7 linked regions of the Homo sapiens genome follow. The protein of the gene in region 7 interacts with the protein of the main gene of each other region in a biochemical or structural test. Each region holds a gene or a part of one and is shown on either strand. Other genes may lie near its edges.

What was found.
Region 1: the proteins of CBX3 (region 7) and MKI67 form a complex in vitro, tested with the Homo sapiens proteins (one study listed by BioGRID).
Region 2: the proteins of CBX3 (region 7) and ZNF496 form a complex in vitro, tested with the Homo sapiens proteins (one study listed by BioGRID).
Region 3: the proteins of CBX3 (region 7) and LBR form a complex in vitro, tested with the Homo sapiens proteins (one study listed by BioGRID and IntAct).
Region 4: the proteins of CBX3 (region 7) and NIPBL form a complex in vitro, tested with the Homo sapiens proteins (one study listed by BioGRID).
Region 5: of the proteins of CBX3 (region 7) and HIPK2, one has a biochemical effect on the other in vitro, tested with the Homo sapiens proteins (one study listed by BioGRID).
Region 6: the proteins of CBX3 (region 7) and EHMT2 are reported together in a solved structure, tested with the Homo sapiens proteins (2 studies listed by BioGRID, with this or other methods).

Annotation. Positions count from the first base shown.
Region 1 is NC_000010.11:128,095,728-128,099,394, forward strand, and holds the end of MKI67 (proliferation marker protein Ki-67), read right to left. Parts: intron 3,529-3,667; coding exon 3,463-3,528; 3' UTR 932-3,462; downstream 1-931. UniProt on the Homo sapiens protein: Protein that associates with the surface of mitotic chromosomes and acts both as a chromosome repellent during early mitosis and chromosome attractant during late mitosis.
Region 2 is NC_000001.11:247,307,785-247,311,818, reverse strand, and holds part of ZNF496 (zinc finger protein 496), read left to right. Parts: intron 1-1,362; coding exon 1,363-1,495; intron 1,496-2,012; coding exon 2,013-2,120; intron 2,121-3,230; coding exon 3,231-3,344; intron 3,345-3,791; coding exon of another isoform or gene 3,792-3,946; exon of another isoform or gene 3,947-4,034. UniProt on the Homo sapiens protein: DNA-binding transcription factor that can both act as an activator and a repressor.
Region 3 is NC_000001.11:225,421,438-225,425,471, reverse strand, and holds part of LBR (delta(14)-sterol reductase LBR), read left to right. Parts: intron 1-1,382; 5' UTR 1,383-1,396; coding exon 1,397-1,561; intron 1,562-3,194; coding exon 3,195-3,395; intron 3,396-4,034. UniProt on the Homo sapiens protein: Catalyzes the reduction of the C14-unsaturated bond of lanosterol, as part of the metabolic pathway leading to cholesterol biosynthesis.
Region 4 is NC_000005.10:36,882,906-36,886,939, forward strand, and holds part of NIPBL (nipped-B-like protein), read left to right. Parts: intron 1-4,034. UniProt on the Homo sapiens protein: Plays an important role in the loading of the cohesin complex on to DNA. Forms a heterodimeric complex (also known as cohesin loading complex) with MAU2/SCC4 which mediates the loading of the cohesin complex onto chromatin.
Region 5 is NC_000007.14:139,571,674-139,575,707, reverse strand, and holds part of HIPK2 (homeodomain-interacting protein kinase 2), read left to right. Parts: intron 1-419; coding exon 420-580; intron 581-2,310; coding exon 2,311-2,781; 3' UTR 2,782-4,034.
Region 6 is NC_000006.12:31,884,060-31,888,093, reverse strand, and holds part of EHMT2 (histone-lysine N-methyltransferase EHMT2), read left to right. Parts: coding exon 1-53; intron 54-132; coding exon 133-315; intron 316-434; coding exon 435-517; intron 518-992; coding exon 993-1,099; intron 1,100-1,196; coding exon 1,197-1,319; intron 1,320-1,411; coding exon 1,412-1,513; intron 1,514-3,038; coding exon of another isoform or gene 3,039-3,077; coding exon 3,078-3,182; coding exon of another isoform or gene 3,183-3,203; intron 3,204-3,294; coding exon 3,295-3,449; intron 3,450-3,534; coding exon 3,535-3,702; intron 3,703-3,889; exon of another isoform or gene 3,890-4,034. UniProt on the Homo sapiens protein: Histone methyltransferase that specifically mono- and dimethylates 'Lys-9' of histone H3 (H3K9me1 and H3K9me2, respectively) in euchromatin.
Region 7 is NC_000007.14:26,204,211-26,208,244, reverse strand, and holds part of CBX3 (chromobox protein homolog 3), read right to left. Parts: intron 1,878-4,034; coding exon 1,735-1,877; intron 1-1,734.

The sequences.
Region 1 (3,667 bases), on a different chromosome or scaffold from region 7:
AGCGGGGGAGGGGGGGCGTGGCTTCCTGCCAATACATCATGGGTATTATTTGTTCCCTCATGAAGAGCAATAGCAATGAAATCCACATTTCCAAATTATGGAGTGCTGTGTGCCTACGTGGCACTCAATGCCAGTAATACCAGGATGGGGGTTTGGTGACTGTGTCCTGGAGATGCCTTGGGGGTCTGGGAGCACCTGGACAGCACAGAAATCAGTTTCTCCAGCTGTAACCAGAGTGCCAGGAGATTCCTGCAGTTCATCTAGAGGACTTTTCCAGGAAACCCAGCAAACAGTAGGATCTCAGCCACACGAAATCATTTAGTTAAGTAGCTACAGTTTACTTTATGGAGTCGCCGTTTGCCATGTTAATTCTTGATGACAGCCCAGGATGTGGGCTGCAGACTGAACCCACTTCCTTCACCAGACTGACCACCGAGCACGGCTCTCCCTCCCTCCTCAGCCTCTCAAGATGGTAGATGCACCCACCTGCAAACTTTTCTCTCCGACAGAAAGGCCTCTTCTTCAGGACTAACTGACCTACCGCAGGCTACTGCCCCTGGAACTTGCCAGCAAATTCACTCCCGGGATCCATGTCAAATCAGGGTTGCCAGAGGAAAGTCAGGGCATGTATTTTCATCTGCTGACTTGGGGCAGCCCTGGGTCAAATCCCCATCCCTCAACTCAGCACCTCTGTTGCAACAAAGCAGGCACAGCTGCGGTTGCAGGTAGTTCTCGAGATACAGCAGGCCATTCCTGCAGGACTAAAAGCAGCTGCGATGACTTATTGGCCAAGAGAGAAAATGACCATCCAGCCAAGTCCTTGTAGAAATGAAAATGGAACGTAATGAACCAGTCTCTCTTACACTGGCCTGTCTGCCCCACCCACACTTAGTTTCTTTCCCCACTCTCCCTATAATAAAAATACCATGGGTTTTAAGACCATTTCATCACATACTTTATTGGACATCTCCTGTGGCTGGTCACTGGGATAGAGTAACCAGGAAATGCAGTCGGCCCTCATGAATGAACAAAACTTACAACCCCAGGAGGGGAGCCAGAAACTCAATTAGTGGCTTAGTTTCCACAACACTACGTGCTACAAAGAGGTACAGAACAATTCCAGGCAAACTAAGAACCTGCCCCAGCCTGGAGGACAGGCATGGGGGTGAGGGAACCCACAGGCAAGAAGCCTCCCTTAAGCTGAGCTCAGGACTGGATGAAATGATCTTGGTGGGGCAGGAGGGAAAGTTCCAGGCAGGGAAAACAGCAGGGAGTGTGTGGTGGTTGGAGGTGCCTGCCTAAGGGAGGCAGGAGATGGTAGGTACAGAGTTAGTGTAAGAAAGCCCAAGAGAGGCTGGGGGACCAGATCCCACAGGCCCTGGGAGGCGAAAAAGTAAAAACAGCTTGTATTTAATGGGAATGTCCTATTACATGGAAATTCACTTGGAAACTGAAGCTCAGAGAAGTTACCATACCATGGTGGAAATGGGTGGGTATTTGTTCTCAAATCCAGTCAGCCTAGGGGAATGGGCAGTATTTGTCAGATCTCTCCCTCCCCCAGTACCAAGGAGGGTTGTGTAGAAGTGGTGTTCATCTATTAAACACGGGGGTAGCCCTTAAATGAACATTTTTAACCCATCATCAACAGCCCTGTAAAATGAAAACCACCCTTAGCGTGCTCTTGAAATACTGTACTTACCAGGGTGAGAAAAGGTGCTGACATACTTCAGCAAGATTTCTGGTTAGAGCTGAACTCTAAAGGATTTTTCTACTAAACAGAATATTCCACTCCACAGGCATATGGCTGGATGAAATTTTTCTATGTGAGGTTCATAATTACTACTAAGTCTAAAGTGTTAGAACAACTTGATCATAGCAACATTCCTACTGAAAGTTTTGAGGTTGGCCTACGTAGAAGGAAGCATTTATGCCTCACACCTTCCAAAGTGCCTCTGCTAAGAGCCACTCTTCCTTGAACACCCTCCCCTGTTCTGCCCTGGTGCAATCCCTGTACCCTTTGCAGCCCTGTGAAGCCCTCAGATGTCCCCTCCCTGCCCCTTTCTATTCCCTCCCTCAAGCAGAATGTCATTCTCCCTTACGATCATGGATGACGCTGTGAGAACCCTATCATGGCAGCCAATATAGTACAAGTCAGTACCGCTGATTTCTGCATTCATTCAGCAAGTATTTATGATGTCACCTGGCTCCCCGCCAGACACTGGGGAAACAAACGTGGAGACAGGGCACTGCCCGCACAGGGCACATTTTGGGGGACAGCTACCCTGTCTGGTGCACCATCCTCACCTGCACCTGGCAAGGTGGGTGAATGGGGAGGAATCCAGACAGGTGACCTGGGGGATGGCGGGCTATTCTCTGATTTGGGGAACACAGAGAGGACAGGGGGCAAAGTGGAAAGTAAATGAAGATGAACGAGTTATATCTACAAGTCTGAAGCTGGAGAAAGATGTCTGGGCTTCAAAGGAGATTTCGGAGGCAGCGGCTCACAAGGAAGCGATCCTGAAATCGTGGCTGAAGGTGCTGAGTGCTCAGTCTCTCCAAGGATGATGATGCTTTACAGAGTACTGGTGTCACTTCCTGTACTGGGTGGCATCGGGCTGCCAGATAGAGTCAGAAAGAAAACAGGCGGGAGCAGAGCCAGTAAACTTCCGAAGCTTTCAATGACAGGAAAGCTGGAGATTAGGAGCCAGTTTGAGGTCGTGATGGCCCACAGCCTGGGACCCTGAGATTCCGCGGGTGGAGAATGTCTCAGGTGAGAGCAACCCTAGTTAGAAAAGTATTCCCAAGAGACCAAGGCAAGCCACGAGTCACTCCTTACAGAAAGTCACTCTTGGTCCCTAAAGATGTGCTCACGAGTCATTCTCCAAAGCACAAAACTTTATTTTCAGAAAGGAAAGGACATCAAAAATAGGACTGTCCTGTGCAGATGTCCAATAGCCTTAATTTGGGGACCAAATGCCCCCGGCCATTGGAAAGACAGATCTTGTAAGCTCCATTCATCCGTGCGCTCATCCATTCATTCGTGTTTACCGAGTGCCTGCTCAGTGTTGGGACAGACGAGGATAGTTGTTCCTGCCACCGTGCCCTGGAGGACATAGGCAAACAAACGACGACACAGTGTGGCAAGTGTCACAGTTAAGGCTGCTGTAGGGTGGCTGTGGGTGGTGACAGACCTCAAGGCTTCATTCTGCAAAGCTGAGGGCAAACCTTGGCCCAGACTCCTTCACAAAGCCCCCGGTGTTCAACTATTCTCAGTCCAGGAGCCCAGCAGTGCTCCCAGTGGAGTTTATGAAGCCGATTCAGACCCAGCAAATCCAAAGTTTTCTTCCCTTAAGCAGACTGACAGCCTTACTTACAGAATTCACTTGTAATTTATGACAAAAACTGCACTAGAACTTATCACAAAACTAACTTTATTATATTTTTCCCAGTTCGATTTTTCTGTCAAATATCTTCACTGTCCCTATGACTTCTGGTTCTTATTTTCTTGACACACACATTGTCCTCAGCCTGTGTGGGAAGAAAAAAAATAGAACTCTTAAGTAATTTAAACACCCATTTTTAGAATCGACCTCCTCTGCAAAACCCCAAAGGCTTACTAGGTATTATGCAGGTCCTTAGTTGCAGAAAATTAATTTTGAGGTTGGAA
Region 2 (4,034 bases), on a different chromosome or scaffold from region 7:
GAGACAGAGCTGCCACAGAGGTGGGGCCACTGCAGAGAACCACCTCAAGGGCAGGCCCTCACCAGGGGCTGCCATGGGGCGGGACCACCCAGGGCCTTGGGGACTCAACTCCTGCCCAGTGAAGCTGCCACCTGTGGGTTTGGAAGGCGGGGTCACCTCCCAACACAGTGGGCCTGGGGAGCACAGCATCAAGACAAAAAGGATTATTCTGCAGATTATTCTCAAGCCGTAAACCATAATGTGCTGTGACCCATAGGTTCAGGACTTGCTGGGGACCTGTTACTCCTTTTCTTTTTTTCTGTTTCCCTTTTTTGGAACTGGAATGTTTATCCTGTGCCCGTCTCACCACTATATATGTGTGTGTGTGTGTGTGTGTGTGTGTGTGTGTCTCTGTGTGTGTGTTTTGTTTTTTTTTTTTTAAGACTGAGTCTCACCCTGTTGCCCAGGGTGGAGTGCAGTGGCATGATCTCAGCTCACTGCAGACTCCGCCTGCCGGGTTCAAATGATTCTCCTGCCTCAGCCTCCCAAGTAGCTGGGATTATAGGTGCTCACCACCACGCCTGGCTGCTTTTTGTATTTTTGGTAGAGATGAGGTTTAACCGTATTGGCCAGGCTGGTCTCAAACTCCTGACCTCAGGTAATCTGCCTGCCTCGGCCTCCCAAGGTGCTGGGATTACAGGTGTGAGCCACTGCGCCGGCCTCACCACTATTTGGAAGGCACATAACTTGTTTCATTTCACAGGTTCACAGCTGGAGAGAATTTTGTGTCAGGTAGAATTGTGCCTTGAGTTTCAACCGTAACTGATTTAGATGATATTTAAATGAGATGTTGGACTCCGGACTTTTGAGTTGATGCTGGAATGAATTAAGACTTTGAGGGTTATTGGGATAGAATGAATTTGTTTGGCATGTGAAAAGGATATGAATTTGGGGGAACCAGGGGCAGAATGCTATGGTTTCAGTGTTTATATCTCCCCAAAATTTGTGTTGAAATTGTAATCCCCAAGATGATGGTATTAGGAAGTGGAGACTTTTGGGGAGATGATCTGGTAACAAGGGCAAAGTCCTCATGAGTGGGATTAGTCCCTCCTAAAAGAGGCCCCAGAGAACTCCCTTGCCCTCTCCATCATGTAAGGACACAGAAGACACCTGTCTTTTGACCAAGAAGTGGGCCCTCACCAGGCACCCAGCCTGCTGGCACCTTGATCTTGGACGTCCAGCCTCCAGAACTGTGAGGAACAGATTTCTGTTGTATAGAAACTGCCCGTCCTACAGCGTTGTGTTGTCACAGCCTCAGTGGACTAAGACTGAGACACCTAGCTCGTCCCGGACTGAGGCATCCCTGTTCTCCTGTGCTTTCAGAGTCGGGTTTCTCCATTCAAGGACATGATTTTATGCTTCTCTGAAGAGGATTGGTCCCTTCTAGATCCTGCCCAGACTGGCTTCTATGGAGAGTTCATCATTGGGGAGGATTACGGGGTCTCAATGCCTCCAAGTAAGACTTAACTTCCCCCCACACCTCAAGACCAGGGAACTGGGCAGGGGAGTTCTCACTTGGAGTAAGAGTCAACTTCGTCCCATAGGATCAGGGAAGCGGGGCCTGCATCAGATCTCTCTGTTCACCCCCAACCTGGACAGGAGGTCATTTGCACACAGCGGCCCTACAGGCAGTGTGTCCGATTGACCATCACCTGCTGTCTCGCCACATCAGGCTTATCAGAACCAAATAGAACATGTGCTGTATGTCCATTTCTCTTCCATCGTTCTTACCGTTTTGTCCCTTTATGTCTGCTTTACACCCGAAAGCCTCAGAGAGACCCCCAAGCCCATAGCTCTCCCTGCGTGTGCTGCCCCCACTGCCCCTGCACTGCCAGCTCTGGCCTTTTCACTTCTCGCCCCTGATGGTGCCATGCCCGCTGGGCATCCCTCCGCCTTCTCTCTTCTGGACCAGCCCTGGTTGCTGCAGGATCAGATTACTAATAAACATGTACCCTGCCTTTTTCTTTGAACAGACGACCTAGCTGCCCAGCCAGATCTCTCCCAGGGAGAGGAGAATGAGCCACGCGTTCCAGAGTTGCAGGATCTCCAGGGCAAAGAAGTGCCCCAGGTCTCCTACTTGGGTGAGTAATGATTCCAGAACTGAGTGGACAGAGTAGGGGGAAGGGTTGCTGGCAGCCGGAGGTGAGCCCACTCTCTGGCTTCTCTCTGCGGCCCCTAATTGCCTTCTTCATTTCCCCAGACTCTATGTGGGTCTTGCATGTCTTGCCTTGTCCCTGACTTTTCATAGAAAGAATGGAGGATCTTAATTTTGCCAGGCATTGGAATTGTACTCCCTTGGCCAAGGACTGGGAAATAATAGGAATGTCTTTCTCCTCTGCCTGTAAGTAACATCTGGTTTGTGCTGACAATGCAGCAGCCCCTCCAGGAGTGAAGTCAGATACTCATGACAAGCCTAGTTGCAGAGGGAGTGTCTCCTAACTGGGCACCGAGCGCAGCCCTTTGAGGTGCCTCACCTGTCTAGTCTTCCCATCTGCCTGGTACAGGGGTGCTGTGAGGACACTGGGGTGTGGGGAGGTGCTGGGGCTCAGCAGCAGCAGTTTCCAGCCCTCCTTCAGGCTGTGTCGCCAGCACTTGCACCCATGATCTCCATGCCATGGTGCTTCGAAGCATCTGCTCCTTCAGGAGGAAATAGCTTTGTACAGAATCATCAGCAGCTCCACACCTTCTTCCCCTTTGGGACCTAGAGCTGGCATGAAGCAGACAAGGTTTTGACACACCATCCCCACCTGGAACAAGCGTTCAGAGACTTGGTGTGGTGCAGTAGCTCCTGTACCATCTCTACCCTGTAGGCTCTGCACAAGCTGTTTGTGCAGGATGTGCGGAGTGTGCAGGAGCCTGTGGTGATGACTATAGAAAACCCACCACAGAAAGTGGGAATAAATATGGGGCTGGGGGAAGTGCTTGTCTCTGGCCATAGAGTGGGTGGAGTAGAACCCGGATCTACGTCGATTCTGTCTAGCGTCAGAGCTCATGTTTGTGGAGTTGGCCCATTTTGCCTTCAGGTTCATTCACTCAGCAGACACTTATTGAGTGGCCACCCCCTGCCAGTCCCCAGGACGGAGCCCAGGGCCGCCCCCAGATCGTAGCCTGGCATCTATTCGGATAGCACCCTCCCAGGTAGTGCTGTAGGTGCAAAACAAATCAATTTTTCCATTTCCTCCTCTGGAAAGACTCTCCAAGTCTCCAGCCATTCCAGGTAGAAGAAAGAAGGAAACGTGAGGAGCTGCAGGTGCCAGAGTTCCAGGCCTGCCCACAGACGGTGGTGCCTCAAAACACCTACCCAGGTAAAGAAGGGTCAGGGAGGTATGGGTTTGTCCCTGTGTGTCTGTGGTGTGTCGCATGAATGTATGTATGCATGTGTGGCATAGGGGATGGTTGTGTTGAATGCATGTGTGCGTGCATACACATGTGGTATATGTGGTGTGCTGCATGTGTGAGTGTGTGCATTCATGGGTGCACCTGTGTGTTGGGGGCATGTGGGTGTGTGATGTAAATGTGCGGTGGTGATGGCATGGGACAGTTAGGAACTGAACCCCTCAGGATCCCCGCCGACCTCTGCTGTGGTGTTCTTAGCTGCTTGCCCTGATTCCGTTGTGCTGGGGTCATTCTCCAGCTCACTCCCAATCCCAGGCTCACCCTCCTTGCCTTTCCCAGGGGCCGGGGAGGGTGTGTCAAAGCAGGGTGCTGCTGTAGTGCTGTTGGTGATGCAGTGAGTGTTTTTCTTCTCTCAGCATGGATGGCCAGCATCCTGGCACAGAATCTTGGAACTGGGATTAAAGAGCAGGTTTCTGGCATACTGAAGCTGCACAGGACTCTTGGAAAGTGTATGTTCCATTCCTGCTTTCAGAGAAATAGCCACAGTGTAGACTCTGAGTCGTCTTGGTAAAAGTCACCACTTCCAGAAGCAGAGGCTACAATACTGCCATCTTTCTCTTCTCAATACAAAACCCAAGCCTCTGATTCTTACCTGAACC
Region 3 (4,034 bases), on a different chromosome or scaffold from region 7:
CAAACCCATTCATTACCCCAGTGATGCCCAATCTCAGGTAGGTGTAGGGAAGAAAGCTGCCTCTCTTACCTAATGTGTTAATTGACTGACATCCTCTAATCACCAGATAAGTACTTGTGTTTTCTTTCATCTACCAACCTAGCTGCCATCTCTGTAAACTAGTAGAGCTTGTTAAGTTTTTTCACAGACGATTAACAGTGAAAAAATGTGGTGGTTAAGAAAGGCCTCCCTCACCCCGCCTCCCCCCCCACTCTCCCACTACTCCCTTGGGGTAGGTAATTCAACTTTCTCCTTAATTCCAGAGTCTTCAAAGGTTCCTAAATGTTGCTTTTATTGTATCATCAGCTCTTAACAGGAGCCAGTGAGGAATGTACATTGATAGGCTTGGACAATACATCAAGAAGTGCTTAGTTGGTGAAATGAAGGTGATTTGGGAGACAGCTCATATCTGTCCTACTGGCTGCCCCTTGGACGTGGCCCCAGCTAGTTCATGTGGTACTGGGGAAGGTCGGCAGCCCTGGTTTTGTTGTGTGGAAATGTGATTCCGCTGGTCAGCCGATGGAGCGGCATTACTGTCTGGCAGCTGGAAGTACCCAGCTATCAATTGATATTTCAAAAAGGGTGGCAGACAGGCCTCACGTAAGTGGCAGTTCTTGCAGATTGCTTGTGGATTCCTAGAGTATTGTGGGGCTTGTGGGCCATGTTTTGAATCAGAGGAAAAGAATGTTATAATTGGGGGTTGATGGCTGCTGTAGGCTTGAGAGAAGTGAGCTTGGATGAAGGCAACCACCCTGGCTTAGGTGGGTGGTTGGCAGAGTTACTTGGTATGCATTTGTACTTTAGCTGTAAGAGTTGAAAGCTAAATAACCCCCAAATTTATTCATTACAGACTTGGAATTATTTTTCTTCCTATTGTTGGGTTATAGTCATGTTAATTGTACATCCTTGATTTTCCCAGTCTGGTTTATAGTTTGCTGTTTTTAATAAAGGCAATTTGTTAAAAATACAATTAAATGCATTTTTAAAGCCATTGTAAATTGATACGCAAATTTACAAATGAGAAAATGTGTTCTTTGTGAGATTGTGCCTCATTTTTTGATTAGCGAGAACTGTGATCACGGTAGGTGGGTAACATTTTACATAGTGTGAACTTATGGCGCCTATATACATTGTTATAATTAATCTTTAGTGTCACATAGATAACGCAGTGGCTAAATCATCCTCTCAAATGATTCCAAATGAGATTGAATGTAGCCTTTCTGGCCCTAAAATCCTGACCAGTCAATTCTGGAAAGTTGTATTTTAGTGATCAGCCTGTGGAAAAAGACGAATACATAAATGTGTATGTATTGACTCAAATTTTTTTCTTTAAAACTATTCAGGTTAATTATAGAAAATGCCAAGTAGGAAATTTGCCGATGGTGAAGTGGTAAGAGGTCGATGGCCTGGGAGTTCACTTTATTATGAAGTAGAAATTCTGAGCCACGACAGCACCTCCCAGCTTTACACTGTGAAGTATAAAGATGGAACAGAGCTTGAATTGAAAGAGAATGATATTAAGGTAAGAGCTCCTTTGGTTTATCAGAGTGTGTTTACAGTAAGTGGGAAATAACTCTAAGTATGGTTTCTAAGCTCAGGATAGTCAGTTCAGCTCGGTTTGAAGGCAGAGGATTGAGCTCTTGCTTTGGGTCACATACTGTTTTTGGCTCTGGGAATGTATGAATGAGGCATAGTCCTTGTTCCCAAGAAGCTCACACTTACTGGGAAAGACAGCCATTTGCATCTGTTGGTCCCCTGGGTTTACTACGTTCTGTGTCTGGAGTTTGCTGTGGGTGGTGTTGAGTGTATCAAGGGTAGAGAAGAGCCCTGGGCTTCAGGGGAGGCTTTCAGAGGCAGTGACACCTAGCCAAGTGCTGAGAACAAACAGGAAAAACAGCAGTTGATGGGGCTGTTTCTGCAGAGAGGGCAGTATGCCAAAGTCAGGGGTCTGGGGGACACAGTCAGCCAAGTGCTGGAAGGGGGTGGTAGGGGAGGGCTAAGCAGGAGCCAGGCTGGGGGGGCTTTTATATTCCATGCCCAAGGGTTTGGGCTTCATCCTGAACACCAAGGATTTAATCAGGAGAGTGACATTAATTAGATTCGAGTCTAGCCCAGGGCTTTTCAACCTGTCTGGTGAGGGCCTGGGTTTTAAGATATCTGATCCGTAGTATACAAACATTTATATAAAATGCCATAAAAATGAGTTACTAGAAAAATAAAGACATACACAATAGACGACTCACAGTTTTACTATCAGATTCGATAGATATGAGATTACTTTGTCAAAATGCTATAAACATTTCCATACACCTATTTCTCAATTTTGGTACTTGCACAGATTAGTAACGAGCATTTCTAGGACCCATGGCTGAGGATGACACTTCGAGTGCTCTAGACCAGGAATAAAGCACAGAAAGTAAATATTTTAGACTTTATGGGAGCGGCTCCAGGCAGTATGGAAGGGAGCAGACATGGCAGTGTTCCAGTACAACTTTATGGACAGTGAAATTTGAATTTTGGATAATTTTCACACTTCAGGAAATACTGTTCTTTTGATTTTGTTTGTAATCATTTAAGAATGTAAAAGCCATTCTTAGTAGGAAGGCCACACAAAAATTGGGGTGAGGGACTTGGCCTGGGGCGTAATTTGTCTACATCCCTAGAAGCAACATAAGGAGATTCGGAGTAGGTGGGGACACAGTGAAACAGTTCCCAGTCATCCAAGCTCATGTTTTATTTTCAAGATCTGCTTATGTGTTTTGTTCAGAGTGAAACTGTGGTACTGTTTTTTTTTTTTTGGTCTGTGTGCTTATTTATTTTGTCCTGTCGTCTCAGTTTTAATCCATGTTAATTATTACCCTTCTTGCATATGGTGTTGGAAATAAGTACAGCTAATTGGTTTAGATACATTCGTTTCATGGAAATACCTTCAAAGAACAGGAATGGAAAGGCTGCATTTGTCTCATGAAAGATGGATCATTATGAAAGCATTTTCCATTGGCTTCATCTGATCCATTCTCAGATCCTAACATTTCCCGTGCTGATTTTAGAGTTAATGGTAGCAGTTCCTGCCTTTGTTATCCTCTTCTAGTGTGGGTCTGTCTGTATGTGTTATGATTTGTGGTAAAGCTCTTTGCCTTCTTCCCCCTTTCTAGCCTTTAACTTCCTTTAGGCAAAGGAAAGGTGGCTCAACTTCCAGTTCCCCTTCCAGACGCCGAGGGAGTCGATCAAGGTCACGCTCCCGATCCCCTGGTCGACCACCTAAAAGTGCCCGCCGATCTGCTTCTGCTTCCCACCAGGCCGACATTAAGGAAGCAAGGAGGGAAGTGGAAGTTAAATTGACTCCGCTGATTCTGGTACTTGTGTTTATCCTTATACAGCCTTTTGTCTTCCGCTTTATGTATATATTTACTCAAGTTACTTGCAGTTAATAATATTAAAATGTCACTGAAACATCAAATCTAAGTTGATGACTTTGGGAGTTTTCATATAAAACAAATGTTTGGAATAGAAAGTTTTAAATATCAATGGAAAAGAATGTCCTTCAGTTACCAGAAATGCTATTTAATATTTTAGTTTTTAAAAAAGCAGCGTTCAAATTTGAAATAGATGTAGCTTGTAGATTGAACTGCGTAAGGTTTTTACAGTGTATAAAAGTTCATATCATGTATGAAATGGTAAGACAAACCTGTATTACGGAAACATTCTTACTCTTAGCATCATTATACTTTATCACTTTACCTATTCAAAGATGATTTTAGTGGAATTACTTTCAAGATGTAAGCTTTGAAATATCAGGGTGCATGGAGCCTGTAGATCTTGTACAAATAGTATTTTAGATAGTAGACCAAAGACAAAGTATGTTAAGTAAAAAGAATAAAAGTAATCTTCTATTCACTTAATGTTAACCTCTTTTCTGGATAGAAGGCACACAGACTTTGAGACAGAGTCTTGCTCTGTCACCCAGGCTGGAGCGCAGTGGCGCAATCTCAGCT
Region 4 (4,034 bases), on a different chromosome or scaffold from region 7:
TACTTTACTTCGTGTATAGTACACAAAATGTTTGTATATTCAAATATGCATATAAATAGGATATTGATTTTTAAATGCAGGTACTGTGGAATATATTAAATGTAGGTATCTGTGGAATAAGTAGCTTTAGAAAATTTGGCAAAAGCTATTCTCAGGCTATAACAATACTGAAATTTTAAAAAAATGATCAGTCATGCTAATTCATAGATTAACTGTATTTTTATGATTTTATTGTGACTCTTGTTACTTTTAATAATGTTAAGCATTAAAAAAATTCCCAAGAATGCATTGAATTTTCAAAATAATTCATGTAGGTAAATTGCTTTGCCATCTTACATGTGTGACATATCTCTTAACATGCATATACCAATTTCCTTTGAGTTCTCTTTTGTACATATTTCTCCTTTGACAGAAAAGAAAAACTTTTTCAGAAATTAGCAATATTAATTTATTAAAATAATTATATATATACTTTTGCCTCTCCTGAGAAATGCAGAAGCTGTGACATAATTTTAAAATGCTGGATTTCCTTTTGTTAGAATTAACATATTTGGGTCACTTATGCAGGTGAAATGCACAGTTATTTTTATATGAGCACTATTGAAAAAATACTATTCTAGATACATTAAAACTAACAAATGTCTAAAACACTAATTATTAAATTCTGACTATACTTTTAAAATATTAGTCTTTATGATTGATATTTATGATATTTAATTTGGTATTTGTAAAGCAAAAATGTCCTTTAATCCTGGTGAGGAAATACATTACAGAGTTTTCTCAACACTGCTACTTGTCAACCCTTTCAGTATTTTAAAACCTGCCTTTAGTTGTCTTTATTTGAATCAGATTGTGGGTTGCCAGTTTTGAGCCAAAGACATCGATCGTCTGAGTGTATGCTCTATGTAATTCAGTTTTTTTTTTTGGTAATGACCAAGTTGAAGTTTTACATGGTTTTAAGTTGGGCATAACTCCATTTATTATTTATTTATTTTTTATTAATACTATTCTTTAAAATTGATGCACATGAAAAAATTTCTTCCTAGGGTTCTGCGTATACCTCAGAAAGCTCTAAGATTGAAAGCTGAAATGTCATGACCTGAAAACTACTGATTCTTTCCCCTTTAAGAAAAGAATTTGGAAACTAGTGTTTATTCCATAACGTTACCTTCAAGTTATCCTGAAAGACACACATGACATACGCTTTTATTTAACTCTACTAATCTTTTTACTATTTTCTCTTTCCCTTTTTTTATGTATCTCTTCCTTTCACTATCAATGTCCATTTCATCTCCCCCAAAGCAAATTTTTACATACTGTGGCTAATATAGGTATTTGTTGTTAATGTGGTTGATCTTGTAATGTGTTACTTTCCCTGATGAAACCCAGAGCAGTTTCAGAGGCCTCAAATTCTGAGATCTTCCTAAGTTCAAAATAGATTGCTGGTAGAAAAGCATTGACATTAACCATGAAAATATATATTTGTGTATTGTTCCCACTTCTATAGACATATATTACTTTTCAAAATGTCAGCTCAAGGACCAGAAATTTTTTCTGAGGAGAAAGAGAAAGCATTGCCTTTACAAAAGTTTCCCTGATCATTCCATTTCATAGCATTTGTACAGTTTTTTACTTGTATCTCTTGATAAAATAATTTGTTCCTATATTCGTCAGCCATACTCAACCATCAGCTCTGTGAAAGCAAAGAGATTTTGTATTATCTTCATCTGTATGTCTATAACATCATCACAGTGCTGCTCCTGTTTTAGGTATTCAATATATATTTGTTGTTTAGTTAGAATTGAGCCATGTGGTATTTCTTAAAGGTATGTTTTTAAATCTAAGATTAGTGAATGGCAAGTACATTTCTCTTAATTTCAAAATATAATTTTCTTAGGTAGAGCTGTGTCCTTGAGGGCTTCTTGCTTTGGGGGTAGGAATATTTTATTTACATATATCCCTAACAATACATACATAACTTTATAAAGATAAAGAAAAATTTAAAGTTCCTTTTTAAGCTGTTAATGAGGATCGTGAAGTACAGGAAGGGTTTTTTGTTCTGATTCCTTAGGCAGTATAATTGGAGTAAGATACTGGAGTATTGCAAGAAGTGAAATATCTAAATACTTTCTTGTTTTAATCTTTGGATTTATTGCAGTTTTAATTTTTTTTTTGCCAATTTAAGTATTATATATAATCAGATAAGTTAAATAATGAGAAATACGTTACAGCACATAAAAAATGCTATTCAGGGTCAGCAAAGCCTGAGTCCTGTCCTCTCGCTCTCCTCCCTGGACAGCATGAGCTTCACCACTTGCTCCACCTTCTCCACCAACTACTGGTTCCTGGGCTCTGTCCAGCCACCCAGCTATGGTGCCTGACTGGTCAGCAGTGCAGCCAGCGTCTATGCAGGCGCCAGGGGCTCTGGTTCGCGGATCTCCGTGTCCTGTTCCACCAGCTTCCGCGGCGGCTTGGGGTCCAGGGGCCTGGCCAAGTGGATGGCCCAGGGTCTGGCAGGAATGGGAGGCATCCAGAACAAGGAGACCCTCCAAAGCCTGAACAACCACCTGGCCTCCTACCTGGACAGAGTGAGGAGCCTAGAGACCAAGAACCAGAGACTGGAGAGCAACACCCGGGAGCACCTGGAGAAGAAGGGACCCCAGGTCAGAGACTGGGGCCATTACTTCAAGACCATCGAGGATCTGAGGGCTCAGATCTTTGCAAATACTGTGGACAATGCCTGCATTGTTCTGCAGATTGACAATGCCTACCTTGCTGCTGATGGCTTTAGAGTCAAGTGTGAGACAGAGCTGGCCATGTGCCAGTCTGTAGAGAACGACATCCGTGGGCTCTGCAAGGTCATTGATGACACCAGTGTCACTTGGCTGTAGCTAGAGACAGACATCGAGGCTCTCAGGGAGGAGCTGCTCTTAATGAAGGAGAACCACGAAGAGGAAGTAAAAGGCCTACAAGCCCAGCTCACCAGCTCTGGGTTGACCGTGAAGGTAGATGCTCCCAAATCTCAGGACCTCGCCAAGATCATGGCAGACATACAGGCCCAATACGACGAGCTAGCTCAGAAGAACCAAGAGGAGCTAGACAAGTACTGGTCTCAGCAGATTGAGGAGAGCACCACAGTGGTCACCACTCAGTCCGCGCAGGTCGGAGCTGCTGAGATGACACTCACGGAGCTGAGACATACGGTCCAGTCCTTGGAGATCCATCTGGACTTGATAAGAAATCTGAAGGCCAGCTTCTGGAGAACAGCCTGAGGGAGGTGGAGACCTGCTATGCCCTGCAGGTAGAGCAGCTCAACAGAATCCTGCTGCACCTGGAGTCAGAGCTGGCACAGACCCAGGCAGAGGGGCAGCACCAGGCCCAGGAGTACGAGACCATGCTGAACATCAAGGTCAAGCTGGAGGCTGAGAGCGCCACCTGCCACCGCCTGCTTGAAGATGGCAAGAACTTCAGTCTTGATGATGCCCTGGACAGCAGCAACTCCATGCAAACTATCCAAAAGACCACCACCCGCTGGATAGTGGATGGCAGAGTGGTGTCTGAGACCAGTGACACCAAAGTTCTGAGACATTAAGTCAGCAGAAGCAGGGTACCCTTTGGGGAGCAGGAGGCCCATAAAATGTTCAGAGGTCATTGGGGGAAAATAGGCTATTCAGTTAAAATAGTTATCTGATGACTGAAATTTTTTTAATATGTCAGGTGTATTGAGGTATAATTTATACAGTAAAACTCAGTCTTTTGGGTGTGCAGTTTGATGAGTTTTGACAAACATACACAGTCTTAAAACCACCACCACAATCAGAATATTTCCATTACCCCCAAAAGTTCCCATGTATCCCTTTGTAATCAGTTTCCTGCTCCTACTGCAGCCCGAGGCAACTAGATCTGGTTTCTGTCTCTATAGTTTTTCCTTTTCTAGAACATAAAAATGGAATCATATATAGCCTTTTATGTCTTTTTTTTAAATTTAGCAGAAAGCTTCTGAGATTCATTCATGTTCTATGTATCAGTAGTTT
Region 5 (4,034 bases), about 110 Mb from region 7:
CACTTGCACTGGGGACTAAGTTTCTAACACAAGAACTTTGGGGAACACATTCAAATTATAGCAGATCTCTCCTACCCATTTTCCAGATGCTGAAAGTAACACCTCCCAGAGGAACGGCACTGGGCCTGGCCTTAGGCCACCAGCCCACCTTGCCTCTCCTGATTCTTTTCCGCTTTCCCTTGCTTCATTCCCTCATGCAGCCCCGACCACCCTCCCAGCCGAGGGAGTGAGCCAGAGCCCCACTGCATCCAGAGTCAAGGCAAAGTCCTAGTGGGTCCGGGGGAGATGAGGCTGATTTGTTACTGCCCGGCCTCAGGCACATGTTTCTTCCTGGAAGACCACTGTTCTCTGGTGGGGTAGCATCTTCTGGGCAGCTGGGACCCTGCCACTGATCTGACCTCTTTCTCCTCCCGCCACAGTCAACACCAGTCACCACTCGTCCTCCTACAAGTCCAAGTCCTCCAGCAACGTGACCTCCACCAGCGGTCACTCTTCAGGGAGCTCATCTGGAGCCATCACCTACCGGCAGCAGCGGCCGGGCCCCCACTTCCAGCAGCAGCAGCCACTCAATCTCAGCCAGGTAAGCCCCACAGCTGGCGCCCCAGGCCAGGCAGGGCCCCCATCCCCTCATCCTTCCGCTTCAGAGAGGATTGCTGTGGCGGCCCCTCACCCACCTCACAGGGCTGCAGTCCTGGCCACGGGTGGCAGCACATGCCCTTGGTGACCTCTGGTGGCTTTTTCTACCACAGGTCACCCTTGGGGAAGTTGATATCACCAGTGCACAGAGTGCTGGCCCAAAGCAAAGCGACTTGTCTAATGTTACAAAGCCCTTAGTGACATGGTGCCAGAGCTTAAAAATAGGATGGCCCACATACTGCTGTTTCAACCCAGCAAAGGGTAGAGCACTGTGTCCCGGCCCTGTCGGCCTGGGACATCAGGGACAGACCTGCATCCGACTCATTGCAGGGAGGGCCCGCACACCACAGCCCCCAAGTCAAGGGTAAGATTTGTCCCAGGACCTGGAGGAAGGGGGGTGGGTTGAGGTGAAATGTGAGTGACCTGAGTTTCTGTGGGTGCAGGGCTGTCTGTGTCAAGGGCTCGGCATCAGGCCTGACTCACGTGGTGGACTCAGGGCCCTGTTTCTCTAGAAACAAAGTGAGATAAATGGGGTGTTTGTGTTCAGAGCCCCTCATCTGAAGTGCTGCCCCAGGTCATCAGTGGAGCCCGTGTCTCTGTCACGTGACTTAGGTTCACCAGGTAGAAGAGGGCTATTTTATTTGGACTGACAGAACTTCAAACAGCAACGCTTCTGAGAGCCAACTTTTTTTTTTTAAGACAGGGTCTTGTTCTGTCACCCAGGCTCAAGTGCAGTGGCACTGTCATGGCTCTCACTGCAGCCTCTGCCTCCTGGACTCAAGTAATCCTCCACCTTAGCCTCCCGAGTAGCTGAGACTACAGGCATGAGCCACCACACCCAGCTAATTTTCAAAATTTTTTGTAGAGATGTTGTGAGAGCCAATAATTTTGAGAACAAGATTTTACAGTGAGTAAGAAAGCAACTGCTGCTCAAAGAGAGTGTCCTGGCCGGGTGCGGTGGCTCACGCCTGTAGTCCCAGCTTCTCGGGAGCCCAAGGCGGGGGGATCATTCTAGGCCAGGAGTTCAAGGCTACAGTGAGCTAGGTTCATGCCACTGCACTCCAGCCTGGGGCATCCTGATACTTCACAGCTTCTGTACGTCCTTGGGAGAAATATGTTCTCCTATAACTTTGCAGCTGGCTTTATCCGTGTATCATCCCAGCCCAGTGAGTGGCAGGCCAAGTCGGGATTTTCTCAGTCCAAGTAAATTTTTTTTTTTTTTTTGAGACAGAGTTTCACTCTGTCACCCAGGCTGGAGTGCACTCGCGTGATCTCAGCTCACTGCAACCTCTACCTCCCAGGTTCAAGTGATTCTTGTGCCTCAGCCCACCGAATAGCTGGGACTACAGACAAGGCACGTGCCACCATGCCCGGCTAATTTTTTTGTATTTTAGTAGAGACGGGGTTTCACCATATTGGCCAGGCTGGTCTCGAACTCTAGACCTCAGGTGATCCGCCCACCTCTGCCTCCCAAAGTGCTGAGATTACAGGCGTGAGCCACTGCGCCAGGTCCCAAGTAAATTTTTACTTTCTCAACACACAGAGGGAAGCCCCTTCTATTACTTCTGGAGTCTTTCCCTTCTCTTCCTCCTCCCTGCCCTCCTGCCCCTCCTCCCATTCCTTCCTCCCCATGTGTCGGCCCCTGACGTCTCTCTTGGTGCCTCTCCTCCCCAGGCTCAGCAGCACATCACCACGGACCGCACTGGGAGCCACCGAAGGCAGCAGGCCTACATCACTCCCACCATGGCCCAGGCTCCGTACTCCTTCCCGCACAACAGCCCCAGCCACGGCACTGTGCACCCGCATCTGGCTGCAGCCGCTGCCGCTGCCCACCTCCCCACCCAGCCCCACCTCTACACCTACACTGCGCCGGCGGCCCTGGGCTCCACCGGCACCGTGGCCCACCTGGTGGCCTCGCAAGGCTCTGCGCGCCACACCGTGCAGCACACTGCCTACCCAGCCAGCATCGTCCACCAGGTCCCCGTGAGCATGGGCCCCCGGGTCCTGCCCTCGCCCACCATCCACCCGAGTCAGTATCCAGCCCAATTTGCCCACCAGACCTACATCAGCGCCTCGCCAGCCTCCACCGTCTACACTGGATACCCACTGAGCCCCGCCAAGGTCAACCAGTACCCTTACATATAAACACTGGAGGGGAGGGAGGGAGGGAGGGAGGGAGAGAATGGCCCGAGGGAGGAGGGAGAGAAGGAGGGAGGCGCTCCTGGGACCGTGGGCGCTGGCCTTTTATACTGAAGATGCCGCACACAAACAATGCAAACGGGGCAGGGGCGGGGGGGGGGGGGGGGGCAGAGGGCAGGGGGACGGGTCGGGACACCAGTGAAACTTGAACCGGGAAGTGGGAGGACGTAGAGCAGAGAAGAGAACATTTTTAAAAGGAAGGGATTAAAGAGGGTGGGAAATCTATGGTTTTTATTTTAAAAAAGAAAAAGGAAAAAAAAAAAGTCAATAACAAAAAACCCAGCTCAAGAACCCATTCTACGCCAAACTGGAAAGGAGAAGAGAGCAACAGGAAGATTCCAGAAACGGGGGGCCCCAGTTTTTGAAGAACTTTATGAACTTTTCAAAGATTATTTTCATATGGCAGCAAGTGATACGGAAGACTGCTGTCAGGGACACCTGATATGGAAATCAAATAGATTTTTAATTAATTGAACATAAGATTTAGGGATTTTTCCAGAACTCGAAAGGGTCAACAGCCCTCCAGAATGTCGGGCTGCAGCCTGAGGAGGCTGATGTTTGGAGCTGGTGTGGGATTGGCGAAGCCCAGTCCGGGCTCCCTAGTCAGGAAAGACGGGGGACGGCCAGGCTGCTGGAAGGCCCCCGGGGGCGCGGGGCGAGTTTTCTTTTTCTGAGCACTCTGGATAAATCCCTAAGCAACGTTGTTTCTCAAATGTCATTAATAATGTGTGTTGCAAACTTTAGGTTTTTTTCTTTTCTGAAAATGTATTTTCTCTTTGAATCCACCCCTAGTCGCGTAGCGTAGGGCTAGCGGTCGTCACAGACACCCTAGTAGAATGTAGCACTCAGCACCCTTGTCTCCTACCTTGTGTTCAACTCCAATGATACCAATAGAATATTCCTCAATGTAATTGCACAAAAAAAAGCGATATAACATAGGCATGTAACCAATGTGGCGGTGCAGGTGTGCGGGTGAGCGAGCACGTGTGGGTGTGCACGCGCCGCCCTCCCCGCGTGGCCCTCGGCGCCGCCACCCTAGCTGGCGCAGTCTTGACACTGCATCCTTCCCTCCTAGTGCCTTACCGAGCGACAGACGCGGCGTGAGGGTTTACTTCCACTGGTACTCCAAGAAACTGAGGCTAGTCAGACACAATCTCAGCTCTTCTGTTGTGCTGTTGTAACAGTTTACGCTGGCCTTT
Region 6 (4,034 bases), on a different chromosome or scaffold from region 7:
CCCCCACCCCTGTCCCAGGATGTCCCCGGGAGAGCAGACACTTCTCAGCCCAGGTACTGGCCTCCCCCTTCTGTACTGTCTGTTCCCTCCCCCACCCCTATTGCTCCTGGACATGAGCTCCTTCTTCCACAGTGCCCGGATGCGAGGGCATGGGGAACCCCGGCGCCCGCCCTGCGATCCCCTGGCTGACACCATTGACAGCTCAGGGCCCTCCCTGACCCTGCCCAATGGGGGCTGCCTTTCAGCCGTGGGGCTGCCACTGGGGCCAGGCCGGGAGGCCCTGGAAAAGGCCCTGGTCATCCAGGAGTCAGAGAGGTGAGTGGGGAGTTGCTCAGGCACAGCAACTGGGGCTGAGGCCAGAGGAGTGGTGTCGAGGCTGATGCTGGAATCTGAGGAGCTCCCCTTCTCTCCCCGCTCCCGTGCTCCCTTGGCAGGCGGAAGAAGCTCCGTTTCCACCCTCGGCAGTTGTACCTGTCCGTGAAGCAGGGCGAGCTGCAGAAGGTGATCCTGATGCTGTGTGAGTGCCACCCATTCCTTCAGCAGACCTTGACCAAGCTTCATGTATATACCAGGCACTGGGTACAGGGCCAGGAGTACAGTCGTGAAGGACACAGTCCTTGCCCTGAAGGACTTAGTGTGGTGGGGAAAAGACACATGTAACCCATAACGATGGGGATGTGGTGACTCATAGGTGCTGGGTCCTGTTCTGAGTGCTTATACCTGTTAGCCTTGGCTTGCACAGAGAGGTTAGGGACCTTGCACAGTGCACAGTGGTACTGAGAAGCAAGGCAGGGTTTGAATTCAGGCAGAGCTGATGCCTTTGACTCCTTATTCTGATAAATGCTGTGGTGGAGGCAAGCTCGGAGAATGCCAGGAGGGGCCCTGATCCAGCTTGGGGCCCTGAGAAGCCTTCCTGAAAGAAGTGCCACCTGCCCCCTAGCTTGCTTACCACTTGTCCCTCCCTCTCCCGGTGTGGCGGGCTCTCCCCGCAGTGGACAACCTGGACCCCAACTTCCAGAGCGACCAGCAGAGCAAGCGCACGCCCCTGCATGCAGCCGCCCAGAAGGGCTCCGTGGAGATCTGCCATGTGCTGCTGCAGGTCAGCACGGGCCCGGCCCCATGCCTCATTCACCAGGCCCTTAGGCCCCTCCCCTGCCCCATGCCTCCCTGGTGCCAGCCCTCCTGCCCCCTCACAGGCTGGAGCCAACATAAATGCAGTGGACAAACAGCAGCGGACGCCACTGATGGAGGCCGTGGTGAACAACCACCTGGAGGTAGCCCGTTACATGGTGCAGCGTGGTGGCTGTGTCTATAGCAAGGTGTGCGCGCAGGCAGCAGGGCGTGGCCCCCGGAGTCAGGGACCAGGTTTGGGGTGCCAGCCCAAAGGCTCATTTGCCCGTGTCTCCCTCAGGAGGAGGACGGTTCCACCTGCCTCCACCACGCAGCCAAAATCGGGAACTTGGAGATGGTCAGCCTGCTGCTGAGCACAGGACAGGTGGACGTCAACGCCCAGGTCAGCGGCCCACCCAGCCCAGCCCCTCTGGGTCCCTGGTGCCTGGGTTCCTTGGCTTGGCCTCAGGCTTTGGGCCGCCTTTCCTACATCTGACCTCACACTGCTCGTGTCTGTCCTCATTGCTTTCTTCTTCCTCATTTGTATTTCTCTTCATTCTTTTCTTTCTCGTTTCTTTCTCTTTATCAAGTTTCAGAATAATCAGTTCCTGTCTTAATCTCTGAAAGTGTCCAGTGAGGCTTTTTATTAACTCTTGGGTTGTCATACATTGGATGTGTTTTAGTCATTTATTGGCATTCTTCTCAGTCTTTGAATTATTCCATCATTGTCCAGAAGAAGCCCCTTTAAGAGGCCTCTGTGGCTGTGACATGACCCAGTGGCCCAGTGGCCTTTGAGAGCCTCCTGACCTTTCAGCACATTTCCTGCCCCCAACTCAGAATCCACCATTTCTCTAAGAAACTCTGCTTCCTTTATGGGAAACTTTTTTTTTTTTTTTTGAGACGGAGTCTCACTCTGTTGCCCAGGCTGGAGTGCAATGGCGTGATCACAGCTTACTGCAAGCTCCGCCTCCCAGGTTCACGCCATTCTCCTGCCTCAGCCTCCCGAGTAGCTGGGATTACAGGCGCCCACCACCATGCCCGGCTAATTTTTGTATTTTTAGTAGAGACGGGGTTTCACCATATTGGCCAGGCTGATCTTGAACTCCTGACCTCGTGAGCCACAGCGCCCGGCCAGAAGCATTTTTTAGAGAATACAATCTATGTTCCTAGGAGTGTTTATTGTTATTGGGTTGTCGCTGCTTCTAGGACTTTTGAGTGGGCAGACTTAGGAAATTTTTGTTCGTTTTTTCTTTTAAGAGACAGGGTCTTGCTATGTCACCCAGGCTGAAGTACAGTAGCAGTTCACAGACAGTCATAGCTCTCTGCAGCCTCGAAATCCTGGGCTCAAGCAACCCTCCCATCTCAGTCACATGAGTAGCTGGGACTACAGGCATGCACCTCCATGACCAGCTCCTGGCTGTATTTTTTGGAAAGAGAACAATTACTTTATTTTCTCTCTGGCATCAGATGGTAGACGCTACTAGTCCCATTTTTGTTTGTTTGTTTTTTGAGACGGAGTCTTGCTCTGTCGCCCAGGCTGGAGTGCAGTGGCACGATCTTGGCTCACTGCAAGCTCCGCCTCCCGGGTTCACGCCATTCTGCCTCAGCCTCCCTAGTAGCTGGGACTACAGGCGCCTGCCACCACGCCCAGCTAATTTTTTCTATTTTTTAGTAGAGACAGGGTTTCACCGTGTTGGCCACAATGGCCTCCATCTCCTGACCTCGTGATCCGCCCGCCTCGGCCTCCCAAAGTGCTGGGATTACAGGCATGAGCCACCGCGCCCGACCCTACTAGTCCCATTTTTTAGATGAAGAAACTGCGACCCAGAGACGTTAAGTGACTTACCCAGGGTCCCACAGCTTGTGAATGGTGGAGCTGGGATTCACACACACAGCCAATCTTGACCATTTGCTGCTTTGGTGAGCAGGGCCAGCTGCCCCCACCCTCACTCCCTTCCCACCCACAGGACAGTGGGGGGTGGACGCCCATCATCTGGGCTGCAGAGCACAAGCACATCGAGGTGATCCGCATGCTACTGACGCGGGGCGCCGACGTCACCCTCACTGACAACGTGAGTGAGCGTTTGGTTGAGGTAGGGCAGCCCCAGGCCCCTGAGCAAGGTGGAGGCTGGATTCAAGGGCCCAGCTGCCTGCACCTCATCTGTTCCCCTCCTACCTCCACAGGAGGAGAACATCTGCCTGCACTGGGCCTCCTTCACGGGCAGCGCCGCCATCGCCGAAGTCCTTCTGAATGCGCGCTGTGACCTCCATGCTGTCAACTACCATGGGGACACCCCCCTGCACATCGCAGCTCGGGAGAGCTACCATGACTGCGTGCTGTGAGCCCCTGCCCCGCCCTTGATGCCCCTGCCCCCACTTCTTGCAGCCTCAGACCCTGCATTGGGCATCCTGTCCCCTCTTCAGGTTATTCCTGTCACGTGGGGCCAACCCTGAGCTGCGGAACAAAGAGGGGGACACAGCATGGGACCTGACTCCCGAGCGCTCCGACGTGTGGTTTGCGCTTCAACTCAACCGCAAGCTCCGACTTGGGGTGGGAAATCGGGCCATCCGCACAGAGAAGATCATCTGCCGGTGAGCCCTGGGCCCCTCTCTGCACCCAAGACCACCTCCTCCCCACCCATACCCTCCCCAGGCTCCATTGCATCCTCACAACATTCCCCAACCCCTCCCCATGCACCACTGAATCCCCAGAACCACCCACAGGCCCCCTCCCCACTAGGGTTGCCAGATACAGCAAATAAAAATAGAAGACACCCAGTTAAACTGGAATTTCAGATGCACAGATGCATACTTTTTTAGTGTGAGAATGTCCTGTGTAATTTTTGGGACATACTAAAAAGCTATTTCTTGTTTATCTAAAATTCTATGTTAACTCGCTGTCCTGCATCTTACCTGGCAACCTT
Region 7 (4,034 bases):
CACCCCCCAGCCTGCCTCCGCCAGAGACAGGGTCTTGCTTTGTTGCCCAGACGAGAGTGCAGTAGTGGAATCATAGCTCACTGAAGATTCCAACTCCCGACTCAAGCGATCCTCCACCTCAGCCCAAGTAGCTGGGACTACAGGCATGCACCACCATGCCCAGCTAACTTAAAACACACACTTTTTTTTTTTTTTTAATAGAGAAGGGGTCTCATTTTGTTGGCCAGGCTGGTCTTGAATTCCTGGTGTCAAGTGATCCTCCAGCCTTGGACCCCCAAAGTGCTGGAATTACAGGTGTGAGCCACTGCACCCAGGCCCTATATTCTAATTTGCTACCCTGAGACTCCAAATTAGTAAACCCAAATTACTGGGTAGAGGACAATAAAAGTCTCTGCTCTGTAGTATTATTTTCATTAAAGTCTTCTTTGGCCTGGCACGGTGGCTCACACCTGTAATCCCAGCACTTTGGGAGGCCAAGGCAGGTGGATCACTTGAGGTCAGGAGTTTGGGATCAGCCTGACCAACATGGTGAAACCCGGTCTCTGCTAAAATACAAAAATTAGCCGGGCATAGTGGCAGGCGCCTGTAGTCCCAGCTACTCAGGAGGCTGAGGCAGGAAAATCGCCTCAACTCGGAAGGCAGAGGTTGCAGTGAGCTGAGATCACGCCACTGCACTCCAGCCTGGGCAACAGGGTGAGACTCCATCTCAAAACAAAACAAAAAAAAGTCTTTTACATTACCTGTTACACTGCACATGGGAAGTACGCTATAATCATGCTAGTGGCCTTAAGTTTTGGGAGAAGAGGGAGGAGCCCATTCATTTCCTAATGTTTTGATGGGTAAAAATAATTTTTCATGTTTCATGGGCTTAATAAAGAAGGGACTTACGACACATACTTAATTTAAACTAAGAATACTGAAGGATAAAACAGGCAAACGTAAATCTCCCATTCAATTCATAATTCCCAAACTGCTATGAATTAAATGTGAAGAGCAGGGGAAGTAGGAGATAACAGATAGGTGAAGCCCAATCATTCGACTATCATATGCTCCATCTCCAGCGTGCTCAGGAAATTGATCTCCACCTATCCATTTTTAATTGTCACTGCCTATGGAGCTTTGTGGTGTAAGGGGGAAGAATCAAAGCAGATAAGCACAACAAACCCCAAGCGTTAAAGTATGTAATTGTTGCATGTTCAAGTTATTCACATTTTGTGAATAACATTATCAAGAATAATGAGAGCAATCCATATCAAAGAACACAAGGAACCAGAGAGCTTAAAACATGCCCAGGTTCTACTTCTTAGGTATAAGGATATAATAAACCTAGTATAAAGCCTAGATTATATGTAATCCTGTATGAGACCCACTAGTCTATATTGTAAAGCTTCAATGTTTTTAGCACCCTCTGTGTGGAGGAAAATAATGCAGATTATTCTAATTAGTGTAATATCTAACCACATTAAAATATATTACATAGTAAACTACACTCCATAATTTTATAAATTTGACTCCCCAGGGTAATAAACTAGTCTCTAGTCTGCTCACCTTCAACTGTACAATAAAGTCTTGGTTCTTTTGAAATAGACCTCAAATGAGACACCTAAAATTCAAAGTGTCTTTACATTTAAAGACACCTACAGGAAAGCAGGTAAAAGAGCCAGGTTAAAAACAAATTCTAAAACCACTTAGCTGCAGTTAAACATATAGTAAAGATGCACTAAAGTTTCTTACTCTGTAAATCCCTTCCACTTCAGGAAATATTCCACTTTCCCATTCACTACACGTCGATCTAGTACTTTTTCCACGACAAATTCTTCAGGCTCTGCCTCTTCAACTTTTTTACTCTTTCCATTCTGTTTTTTTCCCATTTTTTGCTAAAATAAAACAAAAGAGAAATTAAGAAATATTCCTCTTGAATTTTGAGCACATTTTCAAGGCTCAATTGCTTATATTATTATCACATTCGACATAAATTTTTACTTCTATATCCCAGGGCAGACACCTTCTGGAAAGATTAAAAGTCAACAGACAATAAAATAAAAGAATGCTTTATCTTGTTCATTTAGTTCAAACTTACAACCCACCACCAAAATAATACAATAAAAAAACACTATCTGGAAACAGTTATTTTTTTCCAGTCTTTTTTTTTGAGACAGGGTCTCACACTCTTGTCGCCCAGGCTGGAGTGCAGTGGCGTGATCTCAGCTCACTGCAACCTCCGCCTCCCCAGGTTCAAGCAGTTCTCATGCCTCAGCCTCCAGAGTAGCTGGGATTATAGGCGGATGCCACCATGCCGGGCTAATTTTTTTTGTGTTTTTATTAGAAACAGGGTTTCACCATGTTGACCAGGCTGGTCTCAAACTCCTGACCTGAAGTGATTCACCAGCCTGGGCCTCCCAAAGTGCTGGCATTACAGGCGTGAGCCACTGCGCCCGGCCCTGTAGTCTTAAAAGACCAAGTTTACTAATTTTCACTCATTTTAACAACACTGCAACAAACAACTATGCAGGAAGTACCTAAAGGGTGATACAGAGAAGCAAGTAGTAGTGACAGGTCTTAGGTGAACCTATGACAGACCTTGTATCCACCCCCAGATGGTAAAAGCCCCAGCCCCCTTCTCAATTCAAATATTAATGTCAAAAGCATCAATGATACAGAGAAAAGATAAATGCAGAATGAAAACATGGTTCAAAATCCTGATACCAACTGCAGGGTCAACTATAGAGACCACTAGGAGGTTCAATTAAAGGACAAGATTATTTTTCCATAATCTCTGTAGATAATATTTCCTACCACTTAGAACAAAACTATAAAGCTATCACTTCAAGAGACCAACATTACAAATTTATTTTAATTCCCTAAGGTGAAAAAAATCCTTCCTTCCTGGTTTCTCAAGAGAAAGTCTATACTGGTAACCAAATTCACTTTAAACAGGCATTTTCTTTGGTATGACACTATTTAAGAGAAGCAGGAAACCAACGTGAACCAGCTCTTTCCAATGGCTCAAGATTTCCTATGAGAGGACTAAAAATGGGGAAAATTTTTATGAGAGGATTAAAAATGGGGGAAAAAAAACCCTGAAATGGTTAATCAGAAGATCCTATGGGCTGAGAAGGAATCCATCTTAACATTTCATCTTAAAGCAAATGCTATTGCCGGGGGCAGTGGCTCATGCCTGTAATCCCAGCACTTTGGGAGGCCGAGGTGGGCAGATCATCTGAGGTCAGGAGTTTGAGACCAGCCTGACCAACATGGAGAAACCCCGTTTCTACTAAAAATACAAAATTAGCCAGGCATAGTGGTGCATGCCTGTAATCCCAGCTACTTGGGAGGCTGAGGCAGGAGAACTGCTTGAACCCAGGAGGCTTAAGTTGCGGTGAGCCAAGATCACGCCATTGCACTCTAGCCTGGACAACAAGAGAAAAACTCTGTCTCAAAAAAACACAAAAACAAAAAACCCAAATACTATTTAAAAAAGATAAACCTTAATTGCTCAATCATTAAAGCCATCCCACAAGTAAAGCAGCAAGCAGAAAAAAGTTAAGAACACCTCAAGGCTACAGAAGGACATTTCAAGCTATGCAGGCATATGAAGTGTGCAGACAGATATGTAAGAAAGGCCTCAAGACTGCAAAAGGGCATTTCAAGCTATGCAAGCATATAGGTAACACATACACACACACAAAATAAAAATCCCCTGAAATACAAAAACATGCAGCAAACACCTGACGTTTTTGGATACCATTTCTAAGTCAGGTGTTATGATTCTCATTAGTCAAGATACTTGAGTACTGGGCCCAAACAGCTTTCTGCCACTGTACAGTACAAGAAGGTAGGAATAATGGTGGGAGGAGCAAAGACAAACTGTAATAGACAGAAGTGTATCAGATACCTATACTACATGAAAAACAAAACAGCTACTGCCACAAAGGGAGAAGGCTAACAAAATAAAGTCAACAATAAATACAGAAAATGAAAAGGATACACACTAAGGTTTACAAAAAAAAAAAGGCAGACAAAATGCCATACAG